Homo sapiens: one gene and its partners. The protein of the gene in region 4 interacts with the protein of the main gene of each other region in a biochemical or structural test. Each region holds a gene or a part of one and is shown on either strand. Other genes may lie near its edges. The genes, in order: RAPGEF6, RAPGEF3, RAPGEF5 and RAP2A.

The links.
Region 1: of the proteins of RAP2A (region 4) and RAPGEF6, one has a biochemical effect on the other in vitro, tested with the Homo sapiens proteins (one study listed by BioGRID).
Region 2: of the proteins of RAP2A (region 4) and RAPGEF3, one has a biochemical effect on the other in vitro, tested with the Homo sapiens proteins (one study listed by BioGRID).
Region 3: of the proteins of RAP2A (region 4) and RAPGEF5, one has a biochemical effect on the other in vitro, tested with the Homo sapiens proteins (one study listed by BioGRID).

What each region holds. Positions count from the first base shown.
Region 1 is NC_000005.10:131,625,230-131,632,253, reverse strand, and holds part of RAPGEF6 (rap guanine nucleotide exchange factor 6), read left to right. Parts: intron 1-7,024. UniProt on the Homo sapiens protein: Guanine nucleotide exchange factor (GEF) for Rap1A, Rap2A and M-Ras GTPases. Does not interact with cAMP.
Region 2 is NC_000012.12:47,748,872-47,755,895, reverse strand, and holds part of RAPGEF3 (rap guanine nucleotide exchange factor 3), read left to right. Parts: coding exon of another isoform or gene 1-47; exon of another isoform or gene 48-194; intron 195-1,868; exon of another isoform or gene 1,869-1,962; intron 1,963-3,926; coding exon 3,927-3,980; intron 3,981-4,066; coding exon 4,067-4,173; intron 4,174-4,375; coding exon 4,376-4,497; intron 4,498-4,634; coding exon of another isoform or gene 4,635-4,679; coding exon 4,680-4,848; intron 4,849-5,470; coding exon 5,471-5,555; intron 5,556-5,905; coding exon 5,906-5,966; intron 5,967-6,078; coding exon 6,079-6,155; intron 6,156-6,359; coding exon 6,360-6,506; intron 6,507-6,964; coding exon 6,965-7,024. Other genes in the region: SLC48A1 (heme transporter HRG1), read right to left, coding at 1-47. UniProt on the Homo sapiens protein: Guanine nucleotide exchange factor (GEF) for RAP1A and RAP2A small GTPases that is activated by binding cAMP.
Region 3 is NC_000007.14:22,305,150-22,312,173, reverse strand, and holds part of RAPGEF5 (rap guanine nucleotide exchange factor 5), read left to right. Parts: intron 1-2,083; coding exon 2,084-2,205; intron 2,206-3,666; coding exon 3,667-3,835; intron 3,836-7,024. UniProt on the Homo sapiens protein: Guanine nucleotide exchange factor (GEF) for RAP1A, RAP2A and MRAS/M-Ras-GTP. Its association with MRAS inhibits Rap1 activation.
Region 4 is NC_000013.11:97,429,307-97,437,188, forward strand, and holds the start of RAP2A (ras-related protein Rap-2a), read left to right. Parts: upstream 1-4,862; 5' UTR 4,863-5,164; coding exon 5,165-5,478; intron 5,479-7,882. UniProt on the Homo sapiens protein: Small GTP-binding protein which cycles between a GDP-bound inactive and a GTP-bound active form. In its active form interacts with and regulates several effectors including MAP4K4, MINK1 and TNIK.

The DNA of each region.
Region 1 (7,024 bases), on a different chromosome or scaffold from region 4:
TGTGACTGGAGAAGGGTGAACAGGTGTGAGAGTAGTAAGAGATGAAGGAGGAGTGGAGATAATGATGCATAGCATAGGGCACATCCTATTTGACTTTTCAGTGAGGGGGAGCACTGAAAGATTTTGAAGCAGAGGAGTGATATTGACCTACTTAACCTTTTTTTTTTTTTTTTTTTTTGAGACAGAGTCTTGCTCTGTCACCCAGGCTGGAGTGCAGTGGTGCAGTCTGGGCTCACTGCAATCTCTGCCACCTGAGATCAAGCGATTCTCCTGCCTCAGCCTCCTGAGTAGCTGGGACTACAGGTGTGTGCCAACACGCCCGGCTAATTTTTTGTGTTTTTAGTAGAGATGGGGTTTCACCGTGTTAGCCAGGATGGCCTCAATCTCTTGTCCTCGTGATCTGCCCGCCTTGGCCTCCCAAAGTGCTGGGATTACAGGCGTGAGCCACCACGCCTGGCCTACCTTTTTGTTTTTAAAGAGGGTCTCACTATATTGCCCAGTCTGGTCACTAATTTCTGGGCTCAACAGATTCTCCTGCTTCAACCTCCCAAGTAGCTGGAACTACAGGCATGTGCCACTACACCTGACTACCTTACTGGGTAGTCTCCTGGCTGCTGTGTTGAGAATAGACTGTAGGTGTTTAAGGGCAAAAGCAGGAGGTTAACGGCTGTTATTGCATAAAATCAGGTTAGAGATGATGGTCACTCTGACTAAAGTGATAGTGATAGTAATGGAAGTGGTGAGAAGTGGTTAAGTTTTAGAAATATTTTGTAGGGTTAGCCAACAGGATTTGCTAATAGATCAGATGTGGACCTTGAGGAAAAGAGAAGAATCAAGCATGACTTCAAGGTTTTTGGCCTAAATAACTGGAGTGTTGGAGTTATTGTCAGAGAGGTTTGAGCTGCCATCAGCGAGATGGGAAAAGCTGCAGGAGGAGTAGGTTTTAGGGGCAAGATCAGAAATTCAGTTTTGAACATGTCAAGTTTGAAATGTCTGTTAGAAATGAGTAAGAGGTTGCATATACAAATTTGTATTACTAAGAAGCCTGAGCTGGAGATAACAATTTTATAGTCATCAGTTTATAGATATTGAAAGTCATGAGACTGGGTAAAATTACCAAGTAGTGAGTGTACGTAGAGAATAGAAGAGGACCAAGGACAGTGAGTACCATGGGACATGAGATCAGTATAAGGTCGGGGAGAAGAGTAGAAATCAGCAAAGGAGAATGAGTGGAAGCAAACAGTGCAGTAGGAGAAAAACCGAGAGAGTGGTGGTGCCCTAGAAGCCAAATTAATAAGCTGTAAAATAGAAGGGGATAAAATTATTTGTTTGGCTTATTTTTCCTTGAATACCTACTGGGTGCAAAGCGTTGTGAAAAATATACAAAGGGATGAGAATTAGTATGTTGAAATCATTTGTTTGCATCGTGTAATTGATGAGTAAATAATGAGTAAAGAACTCCTTGTGTTTCTGGGACAAAATGAATGGTTCCTTTATTTTGAACCATCTGTCGTCCTTAGGTGAAACTATCAACTCAGGCATAATCCTAGTGAGCCAGACATCAAGTACAGACACATGTTGTAAAGTGTGCCATTTAGATATCTTTCTAACACAGTGTGTGTGTGAGAGATTTCTCCTACTTATAGATTCAGCTTCCACAGAACATTGTCTTTCCTGAGCTAGTTCTTTCTCAATTTGCAAAGATATTCTTATGGAAAATTTCAGACTTAAATACTCCATGGACAATTAAGTGCACTAAAACAACAAAAACTGTTAAGGTACAGACATACCTCCCAGATACTGCAGGTTTGGTTCCAGACTACTGCAGTAAAGCCAATATCCCAATAAAGTGAGTCACGTGAATTTTATTTCCTAGTGCACATAAAAGTTGTTTACACATATAGTAGTTTATTGTGTGTGATAGCCTTATGTCTAAAAAAAGATATATGCCTTAATTTAAAAATACTTTATTGCTAAAAAATACTAACCAGTCATCTGAGCCTTCAGCTAGTTGTCATCTTTTAGCTGGTGGAGGGTCTTGCCTTAGTGTTGATAGCTGCTGCTGACCAATCAGGGTGGTAGTTGCCGAAGATTGGGGTGGCTGTGACAGTTTCTTAAAATAAGACAATGAAGTTTGCCACATCAATTGACTTTCTTTCATGAAAGATTTCTCTTTAGCATGTGATGCTGTTTGATAGCATTTTACCTACAGTAACTTCTTTCAAAATTGGTGTCAGTCCTCCCAAATTCTGCTGCTGCTTTATCAACTAAGCTTAAGCTTATGTGGTATTCTAAATTCTTTGTTGTCATTTGAACAATATGTACATCATCTTCACCAGGAGCAGGTTGTCTCAAGAAACCACTTTTTTTACTAATGCATAAGAGGCAGCTTCTCATCTACTCAAGTTTTATCATGAGATTGCAGCAATTTAGTCACACCTTCAGGCTCCATCTTCATTTCTTTTTTTTTTCTTTCCTTTTTTTTTTTTTTCTTTTTCTTTGAGACAAGATCTCATTCTGTTGCCCAGGTTGGAGTGCAGTGGCGTAATCACAGCCCACTGCAGCCTCTACTTCCCAGGCTCAAGTGACCCCACCTCAGCCTCCTGAGTAGCTGGTACTACAGGTGCATGCCATCATGCGTGGCTGATTTTTTTTTTTTTTTTGTAGAGACGAGGCCTTGCTATGTTGCCCAGGTTGATCTTGAACTCCTGGGCCCAAGCAATCCTCCCACCTTAGCCTCCCAAAGTGCTGGGAGCCAGCCCAGGCTCTATTTCTAATTCTAGTTCTCTTGCTATTTCTACCACACATGCAGTTGCTTCCTTCACTGAAGTGTTGTACCCTTCAAAGTCATTCATAAAGGTTGGATTCAACCTCTTTCAAACTCCTGTTAGTGTTGATATTTTGACCTCCTCCCATGCTTCACAATTTTTTTTTTCTTTTAAGTGATAGTCTCAATACATTGCCTGGACTGGTCTTGAACTCCTAGGCTCAAGTGATCCTCCCACCTCAGCCTCCCAAAGTGTTGGGATTACAGGCGTGAGTCACCATGCCTGGCCCACAGATGGTTTTAATGGCATCTGGAATGATGAATCATTTCAAGACAGTTTTCAATTTTCTTTTCACAGATCTGTTAGGGAATCACTGTCTATGTCAGCTGTAGCTTTATGAAATGTGTTTCTTAAATAACAAGACTTGAAGGTTGAAACTTTTCCTTGATCCATGGGCCACAGAATGGATGTTGTATTAGCAGGCCTGAAAAAAATCACTAATCTCCTTGTGTACCTCCATCTGAGCTCTTGAGTGACAAGATGCATTGTCAGTGAGTAGTAGTATTTTGAAATGAATCTTTTTTTCTGAGCAGTGGGTCTCATCAGTGGACTTAAAATATTCATTAACCCATACTGTAAACAAACGTGCTGTCATTTAGGCTTTGTTGTTTATTTACTGAGCACAGGCAGAATAGATTTAACATAATTCTTAAGGGCCTTAGGGTTTTCAGAATGGTAAATGATCATTGGCTTCAACTTAAAGTCACCAGCTGCATTATCCTCTAACAGGAGTCAGCCTGTCCTTTGAAGCTTTGAAGCCAGGCATTGATTTCTCCTCTCTAGTTATGGAAGTCTTAGGTGGCATCTTCTTCTGATATAAGGCTGTTTTGTCTACATTAAAAATCTGATTTTTAGTGTAGCCACCTTCATTAATTATCTTAGCTAGATCTTCAGGATAACTTACTTTTTATGTTAGTGGAGGTGGCTTTTTTTCGTAAACTTCATGAACCAACTTCCACCAGCTTCAAACTTTTCTTCTGCAGCCATCTCATCTCTCAACCTTTTTAGAATTGAAAAGTTAGGGCCTTGCTGTGGATTAGGTTTTGGCTTAAGGGACTGTTGTGGCTGGTTTGATGGTTTATCTAGACCACTCAAACTTTCTCCATATCAGCAATAAGACTTTTTCACTTTTTTTTTTTAAATCATTTTTTTGTTCACTAAAGTAGCACTTTTAATTTTCTCCATGTGCCTTTTCTTTGCATTCACAACATGGCTAACTGTGTGGTGCAAGAGGCCTGGCTTTGGGCCGTTGTTAGCCTTCCTAAGTTTAATCATTTCTAGCTTTTGATTTAAAGTGAGAGATAGGTGACTCTTTTCACTTGAACACTTAGGGGCCATTGTAGGGTTATTAATTGGCCTAATTTCCGTATTGTTATGTCTCAGGGAATAGGGAGGCCCCAAGAGAGGGAGATAGAGAAGGTGGAACAGCCAGTGGAACAGTTGGAACACATACATCAGTTACGTTTGCCATCTTACATGGGCACAGTTTGTGGTGCCCCAAAACAATTACAGTAGTAACATGAAAGATTGCTGATCACAGGCCACCATAGCAAATATAATGAAAAAGTTTGAAATGTTGTGAGAATTACCAAAATGTGACACGGAGACATGAAGTGAGCATGTGCTGTTGAAAAAAATGGTGCTGTTGGACTTGCTTGATGCAGGGTTGTCATGAACCTTCAATTTGTATTTAAAAAAAAAGAAAACAACCCCACAATACCAGCCAAGCACAATAAAACAGAGTATGCCTGTACTTCTTTGCGTCATTATGCCAGAATTCCTTAAAGAAGCCACAGTCATAATTAGACCTTGAACTTGGCTGTTTCTCAGCTCAATCCACATTTAATACCATTCTTTATAACGTTCCTTTTTTTACTTCAGAATGAACTCCTTATATTTCCCTTAATGTTTATTTCCCTCTCAGTGCTTAATGCCATGATTTGCACATATTAAATGATGAATAAATATTTTACAAGCCAAAATTTGGAAATACATTTTGTAAAGTCATCATATGTTAAAAAGGTAGCACTTCGTATTCATTGGAACTGCTAACTTTTTGTTTCTTGGACAGTCTTACTCAGCAGCTTGGTTTCAGTTAGTTGTTATAGGCTAATGCCTCCTAGGATTATGTTTTCCAACTTATCCCCTAAATTTTATGTGCTTCAGCTTCATATATCAACCATCTTGTCCTCCAGGTTCTTCAACCACTTGTCCTAAATTGAGCCATCATTATTCCTCTTCCTTCATAATCTGTTGGCAGCTGGCCGAGTTGCTGTCTCTAGGAATTTGTATTATTTCTCTTCATTCCTCATAGATGCAACTTGCCACTAAACTTTGTCCCCTGAATCTTTTTATTTGCCCTTTTCTTACAAGTTTTACTACTCTAATTCAGTCTGTTTTATTGTTTCTACCCCCAAATTATTGCTTGAGTCATTGAGTCTTGCTGCTAGAGTGATCTTCCTCTCAGATCTGATTATGTTCTACTCTTGCTCAGAATTTTATTTCCTATATTTCCTAGGTATAGATTAACAATATGTTGTTCAAATCATTTTTGTGAATTAAAAGAGAAGCTGTTAATATTTATTTCAGAGTAACAGGTTAAAGAGGGACTGTCCCGCTTAAACTGAGATATGGTTACCTCACCCAGATGATAACATTAATTTGTACATTCATTTAAGAAATAATATATCTGATATATTAAAAACCAAGGTTGTAGAGAGGAGTTAGACATGGTCCCTATTCATCAATGACTTGGGAGACATAAGAAAACATAAATGTAATAAATGTTTTAGTTATTAGTGACAAAGGTATGAGTAGGGCTTTGGGATTGCAAGATGGGGAAGGGAACAAGCTTCATGGGGGAGCATTGAATTCCCAGTGTTAAATGTCATGAATTGATTTCTGGATGATCAAGAGAGGTCATTCCAAGCAGAGAGGCAGGAGCAAAAGTACTGATGATGGCAAGCCATGTATACTTGTAGAATAAGAAGCCAATCTGTAAGTCTAGAGCAGGCATTCCCGTTGGAAGTGATATCGCTCCCAAAGATGCAAAAATTGCCTTTTATGGGAGTGGGAAAAAAAATCACAGCTATTGGTATGGTTTGTGGCCCTCTAAAACTCAGCCCTAAACTGACAGTGTCTTATTCTTTAGTATTTAATTAGAGATGGGGCAGTGCTTACGAAAAATTGTCTGAAAGGTTCTTTGGGAGGGGATGAAAATGAAAAAAAGGTTGCAGAACACTGGGGCTAATGTCTAGGATGTTTGGGGATGATGGTACATGATGTGAGATGTTTAATGATGAAGCTGGACGTACTAGCAGGGTTTGGATAATTTCAGAAATTTGGACTCCATCTTATAAATAAAGGAGAAAGAACCGTTGCAGGGTTTAAAGCCTGGAAATAAGATCAGTTTTATAAAGACTACTATGTGAGCATTTTGGAGATGTAATTGAGTGGGGAGGAGCAGACTAGAGACAGGGAGGCTTATAGGTATACAGGTAGACTGGACATGTATTTTATCCAAACTGGGATATTTTCCATGTGAAAGGTAAGACTACTAGTGATTATACTAAGATAATATGGAAACCAAGAAGTATGGTTTTTTTTTTTTTTTTGAGACGGAGTCTCTGTCACCCAGGCTGGAGCGCAGTGGCGCTATCTCGGCTGACTGCAAGCTCCACCTCCCGGGTTCACACAATTCTCTTGTCTCAGCCTCCCGAGTAGCTGGGACTACTGCCGCTCGCCACCATGCCTGGCTAATTTTTTTGTATTTTTAGTAGAGACGGGGTTTCACCATGTTAGCCAGGATGGTCTCGATCTCCCGACCTCGTGATCCACCCACCTCGGCCTCCCAAAATGCTGGGATTACAGGTGTGAGCCACCGTGCCCAGCCACCAAGAAGTATGTTTTGTTGTTAGAAACAAATACAGTAGTTCAGGTGTGAGATAAGGTCCTGGACCCAGTGGTGGCAGCAGTTAAGTGGGATAGTGAGGTATTAAGGAGGTAGAATTGGCCCAACCTGGTCACTGGTTGGAAAGATAATTTCTCCTCCTCCCCCAGACTTTTTTGAAAAACTTTGAAATGAACTATAAAACATAAAGTCCATATGCCCTAAATATACATTGGCAGATGATTAATTTGTTTTGTTTGTTTGTTTGTTTTTTGAGACGGAGTTTCTCTCTTGTCTCCCAGGCTGG
Region 2 (7,024 bases), on a different chromosome or scaffold from region 4:
AGCCCAGGGAAGGCTTCCGTGAGGGAATGAGTGCCAGCTGTGAGCATGCACGCCCATGGTGAAGGGGTGGAGCCCGAGTCCCAGGAAGACAGCACTGCCAGTTATTGAGGCCAGACCTCCCTCTTCGAAAGCCAAGGGGAAAACCCATCAACCTCCCAGAGAAGAAGTCTGAAGACAGCTCTTTCTGTTCCTACCTAGACCAGGACAAGAGAAAATGAAAGCGGGTTACAGTAGGAGGGCTTGCAGTTAGATACAGACTAAGATAAGACTTAACAGCTATTGCAAAAGTGACACTGGAATGGGATGGAAGAACATCTTTGGAAAATAAGAGGGGGAGGTGAGATCTTGTCTGATGTCCGGGGGCAGGGGCAAGATCAGAGTGACCTGTGGTGGGTTCTACTAGCTCAGGGAAGTCTGAGATGATTCTCTTTGTGTGACTGTTCTTGGGGAAGTGGCCCTGTTTTGTAACTCCGAGAACGCACTTTCATTCAACCTATCCAAATAATAGTAGTAGTTAATAGTTATACAGTACTTATGTGCCAGACATTATTGAAAGAGGTTTGCCTTTATCATATCAAATAATTCTCACAACAGCCCTGTGAGATAGGTACTAATGTCATCATCTCCATTTTATAGATGTGAAAACAAAGCCACAGAGAGGTTAAGTGACAGATTCAGAGTTACGCAGCTGCTAAGTGGCAAAGCTGGGCTTTGGTCCCAGGCAATCTGGCTGCAGAGTCCAAGCTCATAACCACATAACCACCATGCTGCACTTCTCTCTTGCTACGAACAGTAACACTGACACCTTAAGGCATCATCCCGGCCCCATGCACCCTTCCCCTGTCCCACCACAAGCAGCCCTAGCTTGACACCTTAGCTATGGCCCAAGGGAACTGGTCTGACAGGTCCCCAGGCTGTCTGGCTCTGTGCCTGTCTCTCCAGCCCAGCTCTGACATTCAGTGACAGGGAGTGAGGGTGGGGCAGGCCACAGTGCTGGTGCCAGGGGAGTTAGTGCCTCCTCTTCCGCCCTGAACCCTTTCTGTTCAGGAATGAGAGTGGGGAGTGGGTGAGGAGGACCTTCACCTTGACTCATATCAGCTGCTTCTTCCCAACTGAGAACCCTGAAACTGACATGACTAGCATTGTATTTTTTTGCACTGTGTCCTGGTAATAGGGCCCATCATGAAATAATAACATCTGATCAAGTCAACTAAACTTACTAAGTAGTTACTATGATCCAGGCACCATTCCAAGTACTTTATATTATTAACTTTTTGATCCTCATAACCCTTTGTGATAGGTACTATTCATATCATCAACCCCAGTTTACAGATGAGGAAACCGAAGCACTGCAAACTTCAGTAATCAGCACGAGCTCACACAACCAGATGGTAACGCAAAAGCTAGGATTTGAACCCAAGCATCTGGCTGCAGAGCCTACACACTTGACCACTGCCCTTGAATAGCAGCCCTCTCTCCGCCCCATCCTAGAAGGTTGGCAGGCACACAAACATCCTGGGGGCACAGAGAGGGTAGAATAACAAACCTGTCTATCTTTGTCTAACCCAGTGGTTTCCAAACTTACTTGCCCACAGAACTTGCCTGAAGGCAGAATACCTCTACTGTCTGTGCCTATAGCACAAAGCTGAGGAAACATGGGAATAGGCATAATGGAAGACGGTAGGGCATAATGCTAAGAGCATGGCCTTTGGAATCAGACATAGGTATGAATCCTGGTGCCCTTATTGACCAACAGTTAGGGCAGGTTATAGAACCTTGGAGCTTTCTTTTCTCTAGCTGTGAAATAGGAAACAAATACCTACCTCTGGGGTCAGCACCAGTAGCAGAGTTATTCAGTAGAATCTTACCTTTCTAAATAGTTGTGTGATCTCTCTGGGCTTTTGCTTTCCTTGTCAAAATGAGAGGGATTCCTTAAAGTCCCTTCCTCAGTGCTCATGGACTAGGGCCATTCTCTGACCTGCATCCTCATCCCCTGGGGGAGGACAGGAAATGACCAACCTGGCCACGTGACCCAGCACCACCCCTCCTAATGTGCCCTCTCCCAAGTCAGAATAATACCAGGAAGGGGGCTGGTGCTGGAGCCTGGGTTGTGGGCTCCAATGGGAGTTGGGGCAGGGACTGGGGCCACCTGGGCATTTTGATATGAACAACAAGTCATTAGCACTCAGGCACTGTTTGTTCCGACACAGGGGGCTGGCTGGGTAGCATTCCTGCCCTTCCTCCCTTCCCTGGCTCCTCCTCCTTCTCATTTCCTGTCGTTAAGTCTCCAGGGCTCTGTGTCTGGCACTGGGCTGGGCCCCATGACCCGGGCAGGGATACCCTTGGGACACCTAGTGACTTCCGCCCAGCCCTGGGCCAGGCGCCTGCACATGCCAGACCTCAGGCCTCTGCTTGGGCACGCAGTGCCAAGATGCCTGTGCCCAGGGCCCTGCCAGCACCAGGACTGGTTGTACTGCAACTCCCCAGCAGGTCCTTTTCAGGGACCTGAAGCCAGATGGGAAGCTAGGAGAGAGGTGGCTGGTGAGGGGAGAGGAAAGGGGCAGGTGGGGTGGGTGTAGGGAGACTGAGAATGGGAGCACTTCTGGGTGGGAACTTGAACTTCTCCACAGCTGTCTGGCTGTCCGAAGTATGCGCAACTGAGTTACACAAGGTACCTCACCTCCAGGCTTTTATTTCCTTGTAAGTGACAGAGGACAGACAATGCCTGCTCTGCCTATTTCACATCTGATCCTATTTTACATGAGATCCAATGAAATCAAGGGGGCGATTGTGCTTTGTAAACTGTAAAGTGCTTTGTAAACTGTAAAGTGAGCCCTTTGAGAGGGCTCGTAGATGGTAGAGCATCCTGTCCAGAGATGTCCACAAACCCCAGATTCTCAGGTGGTAGGAAGAGAAGGGTCGTGAGGGGCTTTCATGGCCATTATTCCAGGGCGTACAGGCCCGGGAGTTCCAAATGGCTTGTTACCAAGGGCAGGGAATCCTTACTAAGCAGTGTTTCCATGATAAAGTGCGTCTTCCTGAGCCAGTCCTGTGTGCCACCAAGGACTTATTCACTCTCGCAGGGCACAGGCTAGCAACATCTCAGAGAAGAAAGACGCTTTCCAGCAAGCAGCCCCACCCTAATGCCTCACAGATGAGTACTAGCTAACATGTGCATACAACTATATGCCAGGCAATGCTTTAAACATTCGATGTGTAGCAACTCATTTAATTCTCCCAAAACCTCATGAGTCGGTATTATTAGTGCTTTGTAGATTTTACAGTTCAGGAGACTCAGGTAGGGAGGGAGAGGTTAAATCATTTGTTTCAGGTCACATCTGCCATCAGTGGGGAAGCAGAGATTTTAATCCAGGAGCCTGGCTCCAGGGTTTGTGTTTTGACAACCAGGCTGATCCGAGGCCCAGAGATGGCAAGACACCTGCTCATGGGCCTGTGGAAGGACACAGAACCTGGCTGGGGATCAGGTCTGTGACCCCAGCCCAGGAGCGGATGTTCCCAGGCCTCCTGAGCTGCTCACATCCTGGCTCCCATCTCCCAGGTCTTCTTATCTCATGTCCTCATGCTCCTTCCAGCTCCCTCACTTCTTTCCCCCAACAGGGGCAGTTCACCTGGGGGCATGGGCACACCTGGGCCCTGAGTAAGCAGAATGGGTGTCTTAGGGCTCTCAACTGTAGGGAGGCAGTCCTTGAGTTGGGTTTGGTGATCAGGATGGCAGGGTGGGAAGAGGCGATGCCCGGGGCACAGGGTGCTGAGTGAATATTTGTTTATTTGCTGAAGGAGTGGCCACATGGATGCATTTGGGGTTGGGGCCTAGGCAAGAGTGGGAGTGATGGGGGAGGGGAGGTATCCAAGAGCTGGGCTTGAAGACCTCACACTGATGTGCACGCTTTCCCTGCTGCCCCCAGACACCACTCACCAACAGCGAGGAGTCCCTGGATTTCAGCGAGAGCCTGGAGCAGGTAGAAGCCTGGGCAGGGTGGAGCTGGGACAGGCAGCACCATGAGGGGTTCAGAGCCTGAACTGCTGTGCCCTTCCTCCCTCTAAGGCCTCCACAGAGCGGGTGCTCAGGGCTGGGAGGCAGCTGCATCGGCATCTGCTGGCCACCTGCCCAAACCTCATCCGAGACCGGAAGTACCACCTTAGGCTCTATCGGTGAGTGGAGGCCCTGCTGCCTCCTTGCCCAGCCTCACTGCTTTCTCTCCGTTCCACTTTATGTCAGGCACCTGGGCCTCACCCTGCTTCTAGCACAGGGACGAACCAGGCTTGGGCCTCAGAGGGTGCCTTTCTAATGCATAGTTCCTCCCTCTCCCTGCCACCCTCCTTCCACTGGCCTGTCCCCTTCTACCTTCCATAGGCAGTGCTGCTCTGGCCGGGAGCTGGTGGATGGGATCTTGGCCCTGGGACTTGGGGTCCATTCCCGGAGCCAAGTTGTGGGAATCTGCCAGGTGCTGCTGGATGAAGGTGCCCTCTGCCATGGTGAGCCCGAGCCCAGGGTGGGGTGCCCCGGGCTGGGCTGGGCAGTGAGGGGGACAGGACAGGGCAGTCCTGGGAAGCAGGCACTACTTGGGGAGTGCTGAGGGGTGGCATCGCAGTGGGGTTTCATACCCACATAGCCTCAATTTCCTCTCCTCCCCCACGCCTGGGCCTCTGCCCCCCAGTGAAACACGACTGGGCCTTCCAGGACCGAGATGCCCAATTCTACCGGTTCCCCGGGCCCGAGCCCGAGCCCGTGAGAACTCATGAGATGGAGGAGGAGTTGGCCGAAGCTGTGGCCCTGCTCTCCCAGCGGGGGCCTGACGCCCTGCTCACTGTGGCACTTCGAAAGCCGTGAGTCAGAATCCCTGCACCCCGTGACCCCAGGCCTCACACAGCACTCAGATTTCACGGTTTCTCAGATTGATCTCTGGGGGCATCCCTTACCTGTTGTGGAGGGAAGGGAACCTGGCTGGCCCAGAAGCCCCTGGCGCTGACTGCCACGGACTCACTGTGTGACCTGGATCCCTCCACACTCCCAAACCCCCCCAAGTCAGTTTCTTCCTCTGTAGATGAGGATGTTGGACCAGGGGGATCTCTGAGGACCCTTCCCACTCAGAGACACAGTTGTGGCTGAAAGCAAGTGGGTTTTGGAAACTGCAGTCCGGTGGGTCCAGGTTCAAATTCCAGCTGGACTGGCTACTGGCTGGGTGACCTTGAGCCTCCTCATGCTAGTTCCTGTTCTGTCAAGTGAGGATGATAGAACCACTCCTTAGGGTTGTTGTGAAACAATGCATGCAAAATGCTCATCACAAGCGCTGCCACATGTGCGCACTCAGTAAAGGTTAGCTGCTGCTGATAACTGTCACTGCTGAGGCACCGTCTGGCACAGGCATCGGCTGGGTGGGTGGAGTGGCTCCCTGCACCTGACGGGCCCACAGTTCACAGTGTGCTCCCATTCCTCCTGTCCCTGCAGCCCAGGTCAGCGCACGGATGAAGAGCTGGACCTCATCTTTGAGGAGCTGCTGCACATCAAGGCTGTGGCCCACCTCTCCAACTCGGTCAGTCCTGCCCCTCCCAGCCCTGCCCCGTACCAGGCATCTTCTCTTCCTGTGACTTCCCTGAAACTCCAACTGCTGGGCCAGAGGGCATTTCTCCACTTCCATCTATGGCTGGAAATTTTCAGTCTGATTTCTTGCCCCCGGCGCTGCCCTGTCTGAAAATCCTTCCGCCTCTCTCAGCCCATTTTCTCCACTTGCTTTGTCTCCTGCTGAATCCTGGGAACACCTGACCTGGCCACATCTTTGTCCCCCAGCACTTGTGTCTTTGGACCTAACCACACCCCTAGCAAAAGCCTGGCTGCTCTGCACATGAACTTGTCGCCACCGACTCTCCTATCTCCACCACACAGGTGAAGCGAGAATTAGCGGCTGTTCTGCTCTTTGAACCACACAGCAAGGCAGGGACCGTGTGTAAGTCCAGCAGGGCATAAGAAGCCAGGCACAGGGCCTGGACATGGGCAGAAGGATGTGTGAAGGAATGGTAGGTGCCAGGAGGGCCCGGTCTGAGGTATGCTTCTGTCAGTGTTCAGCCAGGGGGACAAGGGCACTTCGTGGTACATTATCTGGAAGGGATCTGTCAACGTGGTGACCCATGGCAAGGTGAGCCCTCCCTCCTCCCCACCCCAGTGCCCTGGGTCCTAACTGCTCCCTGGTCCATGTCCTCATGGGCAGTGCCTTTGTTGATCTACTGCTGCTGACCCCGTGTCTCCTGTGTGGGTTGTTCTCCTGCCGTGGGTCTGTCCTGGCAAGAGCTGGGGGCGGCAGGGGCGGCAGGGGCGGGCTGAGACTGAGGCCTGGCTGCAGGGGCTGGTGACCACCCTGCATGAGGGAGATGATTTTGGACAGCTGGCTCTGGTGAATGATGCACCCCGGGCAGCCACCATCATCCTGCGAGAAGACAACTGTCATTTCCTGCGTGTGGACAAGCAGGACTTCAACCGTATCATCAAGGTGCTGCTGCTGGGGTTGGGGAGGGCAGGGGCCATTCGTCCAGAGAAGTGATGTGGAGAGAGGAGTAGGGACCAGAGCAGAGGGCCTGTAAGAAGCAGGGCAGGTAAGAGATGCTGGGCTATGACAGCTGGCAGTGGGACCATAGCCCTGGGTGTGTGTGAGAAGGTGAAGCCCATAAGGCACAGAAGGAGTTCAGTGAGACCAGTGACTTCAGGCTCAGTGTGGGAGACCAGGGGAAGGATGGGCATGCAGGGGGCGGGGGACTAGGCTGTGGGGGAGGCAGGATGCATGGAAGGTAGGGAAGGCTGAGGAGGTGGAGCCAAAGTCGGAGGTGGGAGAAGGGCTGTGGGTCCCTGTGGGACCCTCATGGGGCTCAGGGGCTGGAATGAAGGAGGTAGATGAGAGGGTCTAAAGCTGGAACATCATGAGTTGAGCATGGGATGTGGCCTGTTCTCCAGGATGTGGAGGCAAAGACCATGCGGCTGGAAGAACATGGCAAAGTGGTGCTGGTGCTGGAG
Region 3 (7,024 bases), on a different chromosome or scaffold from region 4:
CAGAATCTATACTTTAAGAAGATCACCCAGGTGACTCCTAAGCAGAGTTTTGAGAAGCCTTGTTCTAAGAAGCTTCTTCCATATCACCTGTGAACAAACAAGCAGCTGTATCCATCTAGCTACCTTTGCAGTTTGACAGTTTAGTTTGTTTAGTAAATGCTTTATTGTGTTCTTTCATAGTCCAGGTGATGTCAGACACTCAGAGCAGACTGAGGACCTGCATTGTTTTGAGAATATGAATTAAGATGGTACAGTATTTAATCCATGAGATAAAAGTGCTTTCAAAGCCCTGAGATGCTGACTAATTGGCAGAGGTGTTGAGGAATTAATTAGTTAATTAACACTTTGAACCTTTAACATGAAAGATATCCTATAGAATTAGAAGTTAAGTCTTGACTGTTTGGTCTAATTGCCTGTTTTATTGCCATCTGTTTTCTCATTTTCTCTAAAAAAAGAAATCCATATATTTGACTGTTAATCTTTATGCTGTCTTATGCTAACCTGCAACTGAACATGTCTAGAATTGGCTTAATTGCCTTAGAGTATCTGTCAAATAGTGACACTTTACCAAATATATTCTAGCTTTTGATGAAAAGCTGGGATGTTTGATCAAATATCTCAGCAGAAAAGTTTACTACTTTATTTTTCTTCACCCCAGAAAATGTAGCATCCATGGCAGTTCATATTGTTGGTTATGGTGTGATTCTAGGGTATTTGTAACTATGCCAATCACAAGAGACAGCAAAATAGGCAATATTTTTCTACTTTAGAAATACAAATAAATGTCGGCATCTCTTGGTCCTTCAGTACTGCATATAAAGATAGTCATTATATGATACATTATTTTAAAAAAACATTTTGGCCAGGTGCTTGGCTCATACCTGTAATCTCCGCAGTTTGGGCAGCTGAGGCAGGATCACTTGAGCTCAGGAGTTTGAGACCAGTCTGGGCAACATGGCAAAACTCAGTCTCTACAAAAAACAAAAATTAGCCAGTGGTGAGCACCTGTACTCCTAGCTACTCAGGAGGCTTAGGTGGGAGGATCTCTCAAGTCTAGGAGGCAGAGGTCGCAGTAAGCCGAGATTGCACCACAGCACTCCACCCTGGGTGATAGAGTATGACCCTGTCTCAAAAAAAATTTTTTTTCATGATCTTTTCTCATAAGGGAGAGTGAAATTTGATGAAATTTCTGCAAATGACAAAACACTTCAGAAGTTTTTCTTTTTGTTTTCCCCCTGAGGCTCATATGTATCTGAAAAGTAGGCATGATGATACCGCCTGTAATAACCAGGTTATGACATTTTTTTGAATATAGTTGTGTGTTTTAAGACAGATTACAAAAATAATTTTTCATGCGTGGTTAGTGGAATCCAACACATCTGGGTTTATGGTTATGTGACCTGGGCTGCTTAAATAGTTACAATGATTATATTAAAAAGATTAACAATCAAATTTATTGTTCTTGGAGTAAATTTTAGGGTTCAATCTTTGTTTGAAGAATAGCAAACAAACTCTATACAACTGACTGTGGTCCCAATTTTGTCTAATCTTGGAATTATTTTGTTCTCAAAAGGACTAGATAAAAATCTATAAATAATTGAACCAAAGTTTATCACCACCAACTTGAGGTATGTAGCTTACCAAGGTAAAAGCATTATCTCTATATAAAAGGCTGCTAAATTTATTCCTTCGTTTTTCAAACAAATATATTTTGACAACTTACTGTGTATTGTGGACTGTTCTAATTGTTGGGAATTAATAGTGAGTTATATAAAGTTCCTGCTCTCCTGAAAATTATTCTCTAGTGGGATAAGCAGATATTGTTCCTTTGTAAAGATATATACTTACTAAATTTTAGGTGATTTGATGAAAAAGTAGAAGACAATTTGACTCTTGTTTCCCTAAGGAAGTGATATTTGAGCTTTAATCTGAAAGATGAATAAGAGGTATATGCCATTTATTCTTGGGTTGCTTGTCTAAAAAAAGCAAGCACATGAAAGGAAAGGTATTATATATCATTTTTGTTTTTTTGGCAAACGGATGTCAGCAATATCTTACTGTGAATGGCTTTGCTTTTGTTCAGGAGGAGCTGCGTTGGGTCAGAGCTGGTAGACTGGCTTCTAGAACACTGTCCTTTCGTCCAGTGCAGATCTATGGCCATAGGAGTCTGGCAACTCCTACTGGACATGGGAATTATGTTATCAGGTTAGTATTATGTCTTGAAGGCACAGCATCATTATTTTATTAAGCTATCAGATGAAAATACACTTGATTTTCTAGAGGATGTTACAGTCTGGATGGAAATTATTTTTGAAGATAAATATTTGTATTCTCTCTTATTTTCTAAGTGACAGGTCATCTTTTGATTCACTTATTTCTCTTACAATTCTTGCAAAAATTATTAGATACTTGCTGATTCATAGACTAATATTACCTGTAGGAGTCCTTCCTCTACTTCCTTTCTTCTGAACTCAATATGCTGCTTACAAACTTTTTTCAAAATCAGTGACATCTTTAGTTGCTCTAAGTGTGTGATTTATCTTGTAGTTAGGATAATCATCAGAAACTGATTTTATGAGTGGGATGTTATGCCATTTTAATTGACTAAGTAATCATGAACACTTTGATATATGACCTATGAAAATTAGCTGTTTAGACTGAACAGAAAGTAGATGTTAACTGGCAACTAAAATAGGTGATGGATATCTCTTTTCTTAGTTGAGCCCAGAGAACTGAAGGATTAGAAACCGAGCAATCTGGATTATTTATTTAGCCCAGTCTCTCAGCTGCTAGTTGGTCACTGAAAAGCACTTTTTTCCTATAGGTAATAAATATCAAGGGCATACCCCTGGTCCTGTTGTGAAAGAATGGTACAGATATGGACGTGGGTGTAATCTTCTTAGATAGTCAATAGTACCTAGCACCGAATACTCTTATTTATAAAATTAGTTAACTACCTTTGAAGAATGGAGGTATTATTAGGATACTTGATAGTTTCAGGCTTTTGGTTAGCAAAACATTTTGTACTAATACCTTTTGGAAAAATCTCTAGCTCTTGATTCCTTTAAAACAGGGTTTCCCCACCTTGGTAGTATTGACATTTGGGTTAGATAGTTCTTTGTTGTGACGGGCTGTCCCGTACATTGTAGGGTTTTTTTTAACAGCATCCCTTTTTTCTACCCTCCAATACTAGTAGCGCTCTGCCCCCAAAATGTAACAACCAAAAATGTCTAGACGTCACCAAATGTCCCCTGGGGGAGGCACAGTCACCCTAAGTTGAGAATCATTGATCTAAAACTTGCCATTATGTTGTATTTCTGTATTACTAAATTAATTAAATATACTAATTTGCTTTGGGTCACTAAAAAAGATTTCTCCCCATCCTCTTTGAATTGTTATTGATTTTATCTGCACCTGTCTCTGAAGCAGAAAAAATATGAATACATGTGAATATGCTGGCCAGAGCTTCTAGTAGTAAAAATAGACTAGTCAGTAAGTCCTTTCCAATTCAATGGGATTATAAACATGAATGAGCTTAGAATGTATAATTATAGTCTTAACCCTGATTGCTCCCAATTATTAGGGCTTTCAATTTATCATTTGAGTTATTACTCTCTGAGTAATATCTTTTAAAAAATTGATCTATATATTTTTTGTTTCAAACAGTGGACCAGCATCTATACTTTCAAGATACTTATGTTTTCTACCAGTTTTCCTCTGATGAATGTAGCTACTTGTACTGTGAATTTGAAAGAGAAGAAGAATGGCAAAATGGTGTCAAGCTTTTACTGCAACTTGTGCCTCTCATTCCTGCCAGAGGTGGCATCTGTGAACTGTAAGTAGATGCTCTCTTGTGCCATTGTATTCTTACACTTAGACAACATTTACCATGTCTAGGGACTATATTCTGCTCTTTAAGATCACTGTCTCACTTAAGAGGGAGTTACTATCCCCATTTTTCAGATGCACATTTAGAAAGATAAAATAAATTGCAGAAAATTAAATCCAGCTAATAAATAACTGGTATTTAAATCCCAGAAGCCTATGCCTAACCATCTGTACCATGTGGTTTCTAAATTATCATTGTTATAGGAGTAGATGATCTAAATTAAGAAAAAACATATGATTGGGCTTAAGTTGGAATAAAATAGTAACTCCCATCCTATTCGCTATCCAAATCGTGACTTTCCTAAGAGCTCAACAGAATGTTTCTGAAAATAGTCTAGAAGCAACATTTGGCAAATTAAAACACGTGAATCATCACATGAAGATACTGAATCACTATATGATTAAAATGAATTAAAATTAATTAGGGAAGGCTTGGGAACAGGACTTGAGTCATGATGTGGTGATTCTGACATGACTTTGTTTATCCATGGTGATAGCTTATTTTAGAATTATGAGTTATGGATTAAAATTTCAGTTAAAAACTGTTACATATGCAGAACACTTCAGTGTCCAGAATGCTTTCCCATATTGTTGACTCTTTCACTTCTATGATATTAGCGGGGGCAAGCAGTATGGTCTTTATGTCATAGATAAGAAAGTAGGTTCAGAGAGAAATACCTGTATAACCATAACAAGGGTAACTCTTATTAGTTAAAAAAATGACAGTTGACTGTTGAGAAGGAGGTGGAGCAAGATTAGGGAATTGAAGTCTCCACCAATTGTCTCCCAGGCAGTGACCCTAATTTAACAACTATCTACACAGAAAAAAAGACCTTCATAAGAACCAAAAATCAGGTGAGCACTCATAATACCCGGTTATAGTTCCATATTGCTGAAAGGAGCACTGAAGAAATAGAAAAAACAGTACTGAATCACTGATACCACCTCACCTCCACCATTTACACCAGCGTGTACAATAGACACAAATAAAATTAAATACCTAGGAACTAACCAGAGAAGTGAAAGATCTCTGTAATGAAAACTGTAAACACTGATGAAAGAAATCCAAGAGGACACCACAAATGGAAAAAATATTTCATGTTCATGGATTAGAATAATCAATGTTGTTAAAATATCCATATTACCCAAAGCAATCTACAGATTCAATGCAATCCCAACCAAAATACCAATGACATTCTTCCCAGAAATAGAAAAAACAATCCTAAAATTTATATGAAACCACAAAAGATCCGGAATAGCCAAGGCTACCCTAAGCAAAAACAGCAAAACTGGAGGAATCACATTACCTGACTTCAAATTATGCTACAGAGCTATAGTAACCCAAACAGCATGGTAATTGCATGAAAACAGACACATAGACCAATGGAACAGAATGGAGAACCCAGAAACAAACCCACACACCTACAGTGAACTCGTTTTCAACAAGGTGCCAAGACATGCACTGAGGAAGACACAGTCTCTTTAATAAATGGTGCTGGGAGAACTGGCTATCCACATGCAGAAGAATGAAACTAGACCCCTATCTCTCACCATATAAAAAATCTAATCAAAATGATTTAAAGACTTTTAGAGCTCAAACTATGAAACTACAAGATTGGGGAAAATTTTCAGGAAATTGATCTGGGTAAAAATTTCTTGAGCAATACTCCACAAGCACAGGCAACTAATGCAAAAATGGACAAATGGGATCACATTAAGTTGAAGATCTTCCTGCACAGCAAGGATACAATGAACAAATTGAAGAGACAACCCACAGAATGGGAGAAAATATTTGTAAGCTACCCATCTGGCAAGGGATTAATAACCAGAATATATAAGGAACTCAACTCTATAGGAAAAAATCTAATGATTCAATTTAAAAATGGGCAAAAGATCTGAATAGACAGTTTCTCAAAAAAAGACATACAAATGACAAACAGGTTTATGAAAAGGTGTTCAGCACCACTGATCATCAGAGAAATGCAAATCAAAACTACAGTGAGATATCATTTCACCCCAGTTAAAATGGCTTATATTCAAAAGACAATGGCTTATGTTCAAAAGACAGCAATTACAAATGCTGAGGAGGATGCAGAGAAAAGGGAACCCTTGTACACTGTTGGTGGGAATGTAAATTAGTACAACCATTATGGAGAACAGTTTGAAGTTTCTCAAAAAAGTAAAAATTGAGCAACCATAGTATCCAGTAATCCCACTGCTGAGTGTATACACAAAAGAAAGATTATATATCAAAAGGATACCTGCTTTCCTATGTTTTTTGCATCACTGTCCACAACAGCTGAGATTTGGAAGCAACCTCTGTGTCTATCAACAGATGAATGGATAAAGAAAACGTGGTACATATACACAATGGAATACTATTCAGCCATAAAAAAGAATGAGAGATAGTCATTTGCAACAACATGGATGGAACTGGAGGGCATTATGTTGAATGACATACGCCAGGCACAGAAAGACAAACATTGCATGTTCTTATCTGTGGGGTCTAAAAATGAAAGCAACTGAACTCATGAACACAGTAGAAGGATGGTTACCAGAGGCTAGGAAGGGTAATTGGGGACTAGTGGGGAGGTGTGGATGGTTAATGGGTACCAAAAAAACGTTAGAAAGAATGAATAAGGCCCACTCTTTGATAGCACAACAGGGTAACTATACCAATAATAACCTAATTGTGCATTTTAAAATAGCTTAAAGAGTGCAATTGGATTTTTTGTAACTCAAAGGATAAATGCTTGAGAGGATAGGTACCCCATTCTCTATGATGTGCTTATTTCACACTGCATGCCTGTATCGAAACATCTCATGTACCCCGTAAATATATATACCTACTCTGTACCCAGAAAGATAAAAAAAGAGAAAAAATAAATAAAATCTCCTGTTAAATGACAATACTGAATAGTTAATATGGACTGTTTTTAGGAGAATAAGCTTCAGAATATTGATGAGACTGTGCTAATAGAAAGGTTGATTGTGGAGAATGAATTTTAGGTCAGGCACTGTGCTGAATGCTTTATATTCATTATTTTACTTTCAGAAGAATGTTATAAGACAGGTACTATTATTATCTCTATTAAATAAGAGGGGAAATTAGGTACAGAGATCGGGTAACCCGTCC
Region 4 (7,882 bases):
ACATGTAATTGGTTGCTTAATATCTGTCTCTCCTGCTAGAATACAAGCTCTTTTGGCTAATTGCTTATTGTTTTATCCCCAGAGCCTAAAAAATATACACAGTAATTACTCAATTAATATTATAGTATCTTTGAACTATCGTTCAGATATTAGTGAAATGAAAGTGCTCACAAATGCTTGCTGATTTTTTAAAGCCCGATTTTGGCTGGAATCCCTCATACTTTTTGTTAACAGGTGGGATGTATTTTGCTGTAAGATGCAGAAAACCTTACCAACACACACTTAAATTGAAAGACACCAGCTGTTTACTTAGCCATAAGTCCAAATGTGGGCAGTTCTAATGTTGGTTTGACTGTCCAATGTTGTCATGCAGGACCTAGGTTCTTCCCATCCTCCTCCCTGGCCATCCGAAGTTGCTGGCTTTCTACAGTATTGCACCATAATGTCATAATGCATCATAGCCCCCAAATGGAGGCCACATTCTCATATTTCAATGTGTAAAGCAGGAAGCAAAGAGAGCGACATCAGAAAACGGGGATATTTCCTCACTCTTGTCAATATCCTAGAAATCCCTCCAGCCCTAGCAGCCTTCTCCCCATTCCAATGACAAGAACTGAGTCACGTGCCTACTTTTGGACTAACCGTGGGCAGAGGGAAAGCAATGCTATTAAAGTCCAATCCTGATTCATCCCAGCTTCTTTGGCAAAAATAAAGGGAAACTGCTGGGTACGCAAGCAACACTGTGCCTGCTCTTCTGCTTTGTTAAATGAACCACACTGAAGCTCTGTTTTCCGCAGAATCCTCTAGCTCTTAAGATTCTTCAGGCTTTTTCTTTTTTCTGCCTACATTTTAATCATTACGTCTTTTCTTTCAGATTTTTTTTCTGATTAAAATGGCCTTTTGAAACATCTACTCTCTCCACCCATACGTTTCTTTTATTGAGTTGTTTCCATACTCTTAATTTCTGCATTCTAATTCCTTTTCTTTTCAAAAGCACTGAGACATATCACATTTTTTAAAGGAAGAACAAAGTTTATTTTGCCCCTTCCTTTCCACTCCACATATATACTGCAGATTCTCAACTGTATTAGGAGCCTCACAGGTCAAGAAACCATCGTCTGCTCTCCTTATACTTGCCAGCAGCGTTTCACAGGTGCTAAATGTACTTGACATGCCCTTCCCCTTTATGTTTAATCAGAGGCATGCAGGCTTTAATAAGAAGCATTAGGAATCAGGGTTTTACAGTCGAAAAGTACCCCTCGCATTACAAACATCCTCTACTAATTTGTTTCTATTAAATTATCTGCATATTTGCTTCTTGCTGGTGTCAGGAAGTCCCAGAATACAGTACCTTTCCCACTTCATACCACCTTTTCCAACACCTTTTACAGAAAGAAAGGATGGACTTGGGTTTCCACGGTAACACAAGTGCGATAATTGAAGGTATCTGGCTATAGGTGAGATAACTCCCTTTCAGATTTAGTGGAGAGAGGAGAAATGAAGATTTTCTTTCTTTTTATTCTCCTGGCAATGCACTTTGGAAACTAAAGGGATCCTGCAGTGTCAGTTACTGCGTTAAGTTTTCACTATCTTACAGATTTACAGCTCTTGGGAATAATTCAAATTTCTTTTATATCATTTTTATTTTTTATTTCCCACAAACAAATGAAGATATAAGTTATTTCTATAATCATCTCAAAATAGAGTTTATGCTGGCATCGGAATGAACATGACTAAGGGGTTAGAAAATAGACATCCATCTCCCACCCAAGTCCTCTAAATTCTCTACACGTCCTGACATCCTTTTTATAGCAGCTAATCTTTCACCCAACATTTCACCTACAACCACAAATCAGGTAAGTACCATCATTTAAGCCAGAATAGGTGAGAAAATATGCTCCGACCTGTCATGTTTCTTTTGCCTCTTGGTGGTTAAAAATCAACCTTTATGGTACTGAGCATGAAATCTGAGGCCTGTCAATATAAGGCCTGTAAATAAATGAACTGTAACCACCCCAAGGGCTGCAGTCTCTATACCCCTTCTTATCAAAAACGTCAGCATTGATGAGAGGTCAGGGGAAATAGCCTGAGAAATGTCACAAAGCTGTCCTACTCTGTATTATGCTAAATGGAGTGACTACGGAGCCCACTCACTATTTTTGTGACAGCTTCAATCCAGAGCTTCTCAACATCTAGGGACCTAGGAGTCATGAAAACAGTTACTTAAGGCAACCTTCTGGACCCCACAATCCCAATACAAATTTCTCAAAAACATTAATCACTGGAACTTCATTCCTTGCAAAGTAAATGGACTTAGAGCTCCTTTGTAATGCAAGGTACTAGATGAGTTGTCATGATCTAGAGAGAAAGCTTCACGCTTCCTGGCTCTATTTAACAACCCTAAGAACTTCTTATCACCAAGATGCACAGTTAGAATCTTAAGACAGTCTGTCTTTCCTTGGAAAAGAAGTATAGCTTCTACTAACCCAAAGTAACCATGAATAAGCATACCAATTTTACACAAAATATGAGACTTCTGGAAAGCTAGGTGAACACCATACTTACCTACATCCTCTTGAAACATCCCTGCCAAAGTAGCTCAGATATGAAGCATCCATGTAAGCTCTTTCAATTTTAATTCACTATTTCATGTTAACTAGCCTAGGATGAAATAGTAGATCCTCTTCGGTTCCAGTTCCCTTAAAACAGTCCTGATTCTTAGTCCTTTTTATTAATATAATACCTTCACTGCTGATTCTGGTGGCTCAGATAGTACCATTCATATTTTAATGATATGTAATCAAGAAATGCTGAGTTATATTTTACTACATACACATTTTTAAATTCAGAGGACATTTGTCCTTGATAATTTTAAATGAAAACTTGGTGTGTGTTCATTACAGCAAGGTAATGCAAATATAAGTTATCCATTCTAATATAACGAAGCTATAGGGAAATAAGAAACTACTAAATTTGAGTAGTCTTTGTAGTAGTTTGACTATCGACAGAAAAGATGGTGAAAGAATACCTGGCTTTTAACTCAGACCAAAATCCCCTCTGCATGATGACCTTGTGGGAAAGAGGAACGGGGAGAGGTATGCCAGGCTCTAACAACAGAACTACAGAAACGTGTTATTCGCAGGAAATGTGCGACAGTAACGAACAGGTGAGACTAGTTTGAGAAGGACATAGTTTAAAGAAAGTAAACTGAATAACCAGTTACTGCAAAAAATAATGCAGGAAAGCTTGGGGATGTATCGTCTCCTAAATTTGACGTTATGGGTGGGAGAGGATGTGTAACTAAGATGCAATGCTAGCGACAGAACGCTAAGTTTTAAAACTCAATAGTGAAAGAAAAAAAATAATGTTTTGGGAGGAACGCCTGGAAGACCCATGCAACTGCTGCACGATGTTTCCTTAAGGACCGGAACATTTCTCACCCTGAAGACAAAAGTCCCTGTGTTCTCGATTCAGCCCACATCCCTCAGCACCATTTCCATGCCCATCATTTAGGCAGAATGCCACGGAGGCGACGTGAAAAGTGGAATTCATCATTCTGGCTTGCAACGCATCTTGTTCTTTTGCCAGAACAGGGCACAGCAACTGGCTCCTCAATCTCTGCCCCTCCCAAACCCCAGCAGCCGGTCCCTGTCTCCATCCCGCCGGCCTCGGTGGCAAGGGGCTCGCGAGCTCTGGTTGGCTTGGCCGAAGCTTCCGTCACTCGCCAGCTCACCTACGATTGGTTGGCAGAGCGTGCGCGAAGAGCCCCGCCTGGCAAGGCACTGGGAGGTGGGCTTGCGGATCCTACGACTAGCGTTTTTCTCGATTGGTTGAAGGAGTAAAGGCACGTGGTATGGGGGCGCTCTCTTATTGGTCGTGAATGGTACCTTGTGGTACAGAGACGTGATGTGGTTGGCTAGAATGAATCCCAGCTTCCCACTAGATGCCCCTAGCTGGCTGTTGCTATGAGGAGTCCAGGGCCTTCCGGCTGCCGTTCGGGATTCCGCTCTCCAGGTTTTCAACTCACCCGTGGCTGACAGGGCGTGGGAAGAGCTCGACTTCAGTTCGGCACCGAAAGGGGCGGGTCTAGAAGAAATGTGGGCGGGTCCAGAGGGTTGGTGGGCGGGACCCCGGCGACGTCAGCGGGCTTGGACCCGACTTCCGTGGTGTGTGGCCGCCTCTGACTCGCCCCTCTGGCGCGCTGCTAGAGGGGGGCGTCACCCTCCCATCAATGTCCTAACGCTCCAAAGCTTCATTTTGTTGCGTTTACACAACTTCAGTCAGAAGCCTGTAGGTGCCCCCCCCTTAAAGCTTCACATGCTAATACAAGATAAAACCAAAGCTCTAGGAGTGCTGACAGACTGGGTGGCATCGGACAAAGGCCCTCGCGGCCCCTCTTGGGCCTTGGGCATCTCTCCTTCACTCCCCGCCTCAGGATAAAGCTTGGAGGTAGCTCTAGCCCCTCTACCATCTCATCCCTTCCGAATTCTTAATGTCTCGGGAGTCTCAGGTTGACGCTGCTCCTGGCTTGGGCGGGAACTGCGCATGCTCGGTACACAGGCCCTGGGGTCTGACTGGGCGCGCTGGGTTCGGCGCTGCTCGGCGGTCGCGGTGCTTGTTTATCTCCGCGCGGGCAGAAGCTTCCGAGCCCCGCAAAGCCTCTCGGGAGCGCTCGCGGCCCGTCGCCTAGGGGGCGGGGGCGGGGCTGCGCCGCGGGCTCCGCCCCGGCCGCCGGACCCCGCCCCTGGCCGCGCTGCGGCTGGGGCTCGGGCGCGCGCTCGAGCGCTGGGGGTAGCGGCGGCGGCGGCGGCGGCGGCGGGCGGGGATCTGGGCGTGGAGGCGCGAGGGGCGGGGCGGGCGGCACTGCGGGCCCGCGGCTCGGGCGGCACCAGCGGCTCCCGGTCTCTCTCTCTGCTCGCCCTCAGTCCCACCCGGTGCCTACGGGGCCGCATCGCCGCCCGGCTCGGCCCGGCCCATGCCCAGGGCCGCTGCTCCCTCAGTTGCCGCCGCCGCCGCCGGCGCCCAGGGGGCCGCCGCGGCTGTGAGGTGGGGGCGGCAGCGGGAGGCGGCGGGGCGGGCCGCCGGGGCCGGGGCTGGGGGCGCAGCGCGGCCGGCGTAGGTCTATGTCGCGGGCGGCGGCGGCGGCGGCGGCCGCGGAGGGACGATGCGCGAGTACAAAGTGGTGGTGCTGGGCTCGGGCGGGGTAGGCAAATCCGCCCTGACCGTGCAGTTCGTGACCGGCACCTTCATCGAGAAATACGACCCCACCATCGAGGACTTCTACCGCAAGGAGATCGAGGTGGATTCGTCGCCGTCGGTGCTGGAGATCCTGGACACGGCGGGCACCGAGCAGTTCGCGTCCATGCGGGACCTGTACATCAAGAACGGCCAGGGCTTCATCCTCGTCTACAGCCTCGTCAACCAGCAGAGCTTCCAGGACATCAAGCCCATGCGGGACCAGATCATCCGCGTGAAGCGGTGAGCGAGGGCACACGGGGGCTTGGCGGCTGCACCCCGGAGTCACCGTCCCGGGGCTGGAACTCCCCGCGCGGGGCTCCGGGGAAGGGGCTTTCTGGGGGGTGGCTCCAAGCTGGAGGCTTTACTATTGTCATTCTGCTCCTCCTCCTCAATCTCAAATTTGAGTGCTTTGTTTCACAACTAAAATTTGGCATCGTGTTAGCCCACAGAACAGCTCTTTGTCTCTTGGACGTTGTTAGCATTGCTTGTTACAGAGCCCCCAAGGAAACAAAGTTTAAAACTTGCAGGGGGGAAAGGGGTGGATAGATTTGTCTTGGGAAGAGAGGAACTGTGCAGGTATAGTCGAGACATTTGCAGACTGAACAACAACAATCTGCCTTGGCAATGTTTGACAGTAAAAATCGCTCACACACCTATACAGTAAAGTCAAGTCCAGAGGAAGGAGACCTTTCTCATCTCGTTAAAGGTTTATGGTTCCAAGGCGTTTTACAAAAATTAAGTCTCTAATTTAGTGCAAAACTTTAAAGACAGATTATTAAATTATTTGAAGACATCATAAGCTAAATGGGGTTTCGAGAATATTAACAGAGGAGTACAAATAAGCCATTCACAGGAAAAGAATGCAGCTTAACTGTTTGTTTTTGTTTTTTTGTTTTTAATATAGCCGCCTTAACCCCTTCCAAAAAAAAAAAAAAAAAAAAAACACCACCACACCACCACCACCAGTTCCTGGAAACAAAACAGAAGCTTCTTCAAAAGTGTGACACAAGTATTAGCTAATTTAAAGTTAATGTTAATAAGCCTTTATATATATATATAAATTCTTTTCTAAAGTATACATTTTGGAAATATGGCTGATAAATGATTTAAAATGTTTGTTTTCTCTTAAATTCACTGAATATATTTTTCCGTGTAATTTTAAGCATTAGAAATGTGATAATATCTTAGTTCAAAGTTTTGGCAAATTTTTCTAATTATCATTTAATTACACATTACTGTTTCATCTAGTTCTTGTTAGTTAATGCCTGCTGATAATTTTGGTGTCCTTTTTTTCCTGCCTTATTCTACCTAGAGCCTAAATCTGAAGACCTTTACTGAAAGATGGTTGTAAGTGCACCGTAGACACAGTCACATTGTAAGTCAGTTTGAGTCCACTCATTTTGAAAGAGCAAGGACCAAGTTATGTGTACCCAGGGGATGATCAAAAATTCATTACGAGTAGTGAGTTTTTAATGCAACCTATGAGATCAAAGAGAAGGCTCTCTCTCTATTGCTCCACCCCCCCTTAACTGAGTATGCACTTTAATCGCTGAACTAAAATCGTGCATGTTATTCATCCTTGTGTTAAATTCCAAACTAGAATAAAGCAGATATTTTCGTGGTCTCTGCTGCTAAGATTTGTAAATTTGATAGCTTTGTACTTCTCCAGTATCATTTTCCTAAAGTTAAATGTTTATAGTTAAGAGATGAACAATTCTGGTGTTAAACTTAGTATGAGGATGGCATTTAAGGGGCTACATTTAAGTTACTTAAATTCTTATTACCCCCTCCCCCAACCACTCAATTAAAAAGAAACAAACCAAACCAACTGCAGGGTAGTCTGATACATTGCCACATGTCAATGTTAGGCCAAATGCATACATCAAAAAATAATCTAAGTAAATGCCCCAACAGCCTCACCCTTCACATTTAGATATATATGCTTAAAGATATGAAGATGCACATATACACTGATAAAGCCACATACCCATGGCTAACTTCTTGACACAAGCCTAGGGAACAAATATGGCAAAATATTATTGGATAATATGGTCCACATAATTTTGTAGTTTCTTGTAATTTAGTGCAGATTACTTTTCTCAGTTATAATAATAGGTTAGTCTAAACTCAGCATATTGGAGCAATTTGTTTATTTTCACTATGACCCAGAGGAAAAACATAGAGTAAAATTCTGCATGCCCAGTATCATTTTACTCACTAGTCTCAGTTCTTGATATAAAAAGATCATTGATCAGCTGAAGTAGAGTTCATAAATTCTCTTCACCAGAATTCAACCGTTGTATACATAAGAACCTCTTGGACCCTCACTTGTGTGTCTTTGTAATATGGTAGTAGTAAGGTATTTTACACCTCATCCTAACCCCAGCGTCTGGCTTCCCATCATTGATGGAGAGGACATGTGAATGCAGGTGGCCTCTTCTTTACCAGTCTTTCAGTATTTGATATCTACTGTCAAATTCAGTATTCAGCTTTAGGTCTAGGTCAGCACTTTTCAATAGAGATATAACGTGAGCCACATATGTAATTTTAACATTCCTAGTAGCTGATTTTTTAAAAATAACATAAATATATGGAATTAATTTTAATGTATTTTATTTAACCCACCATATTTAAAATAGAATCA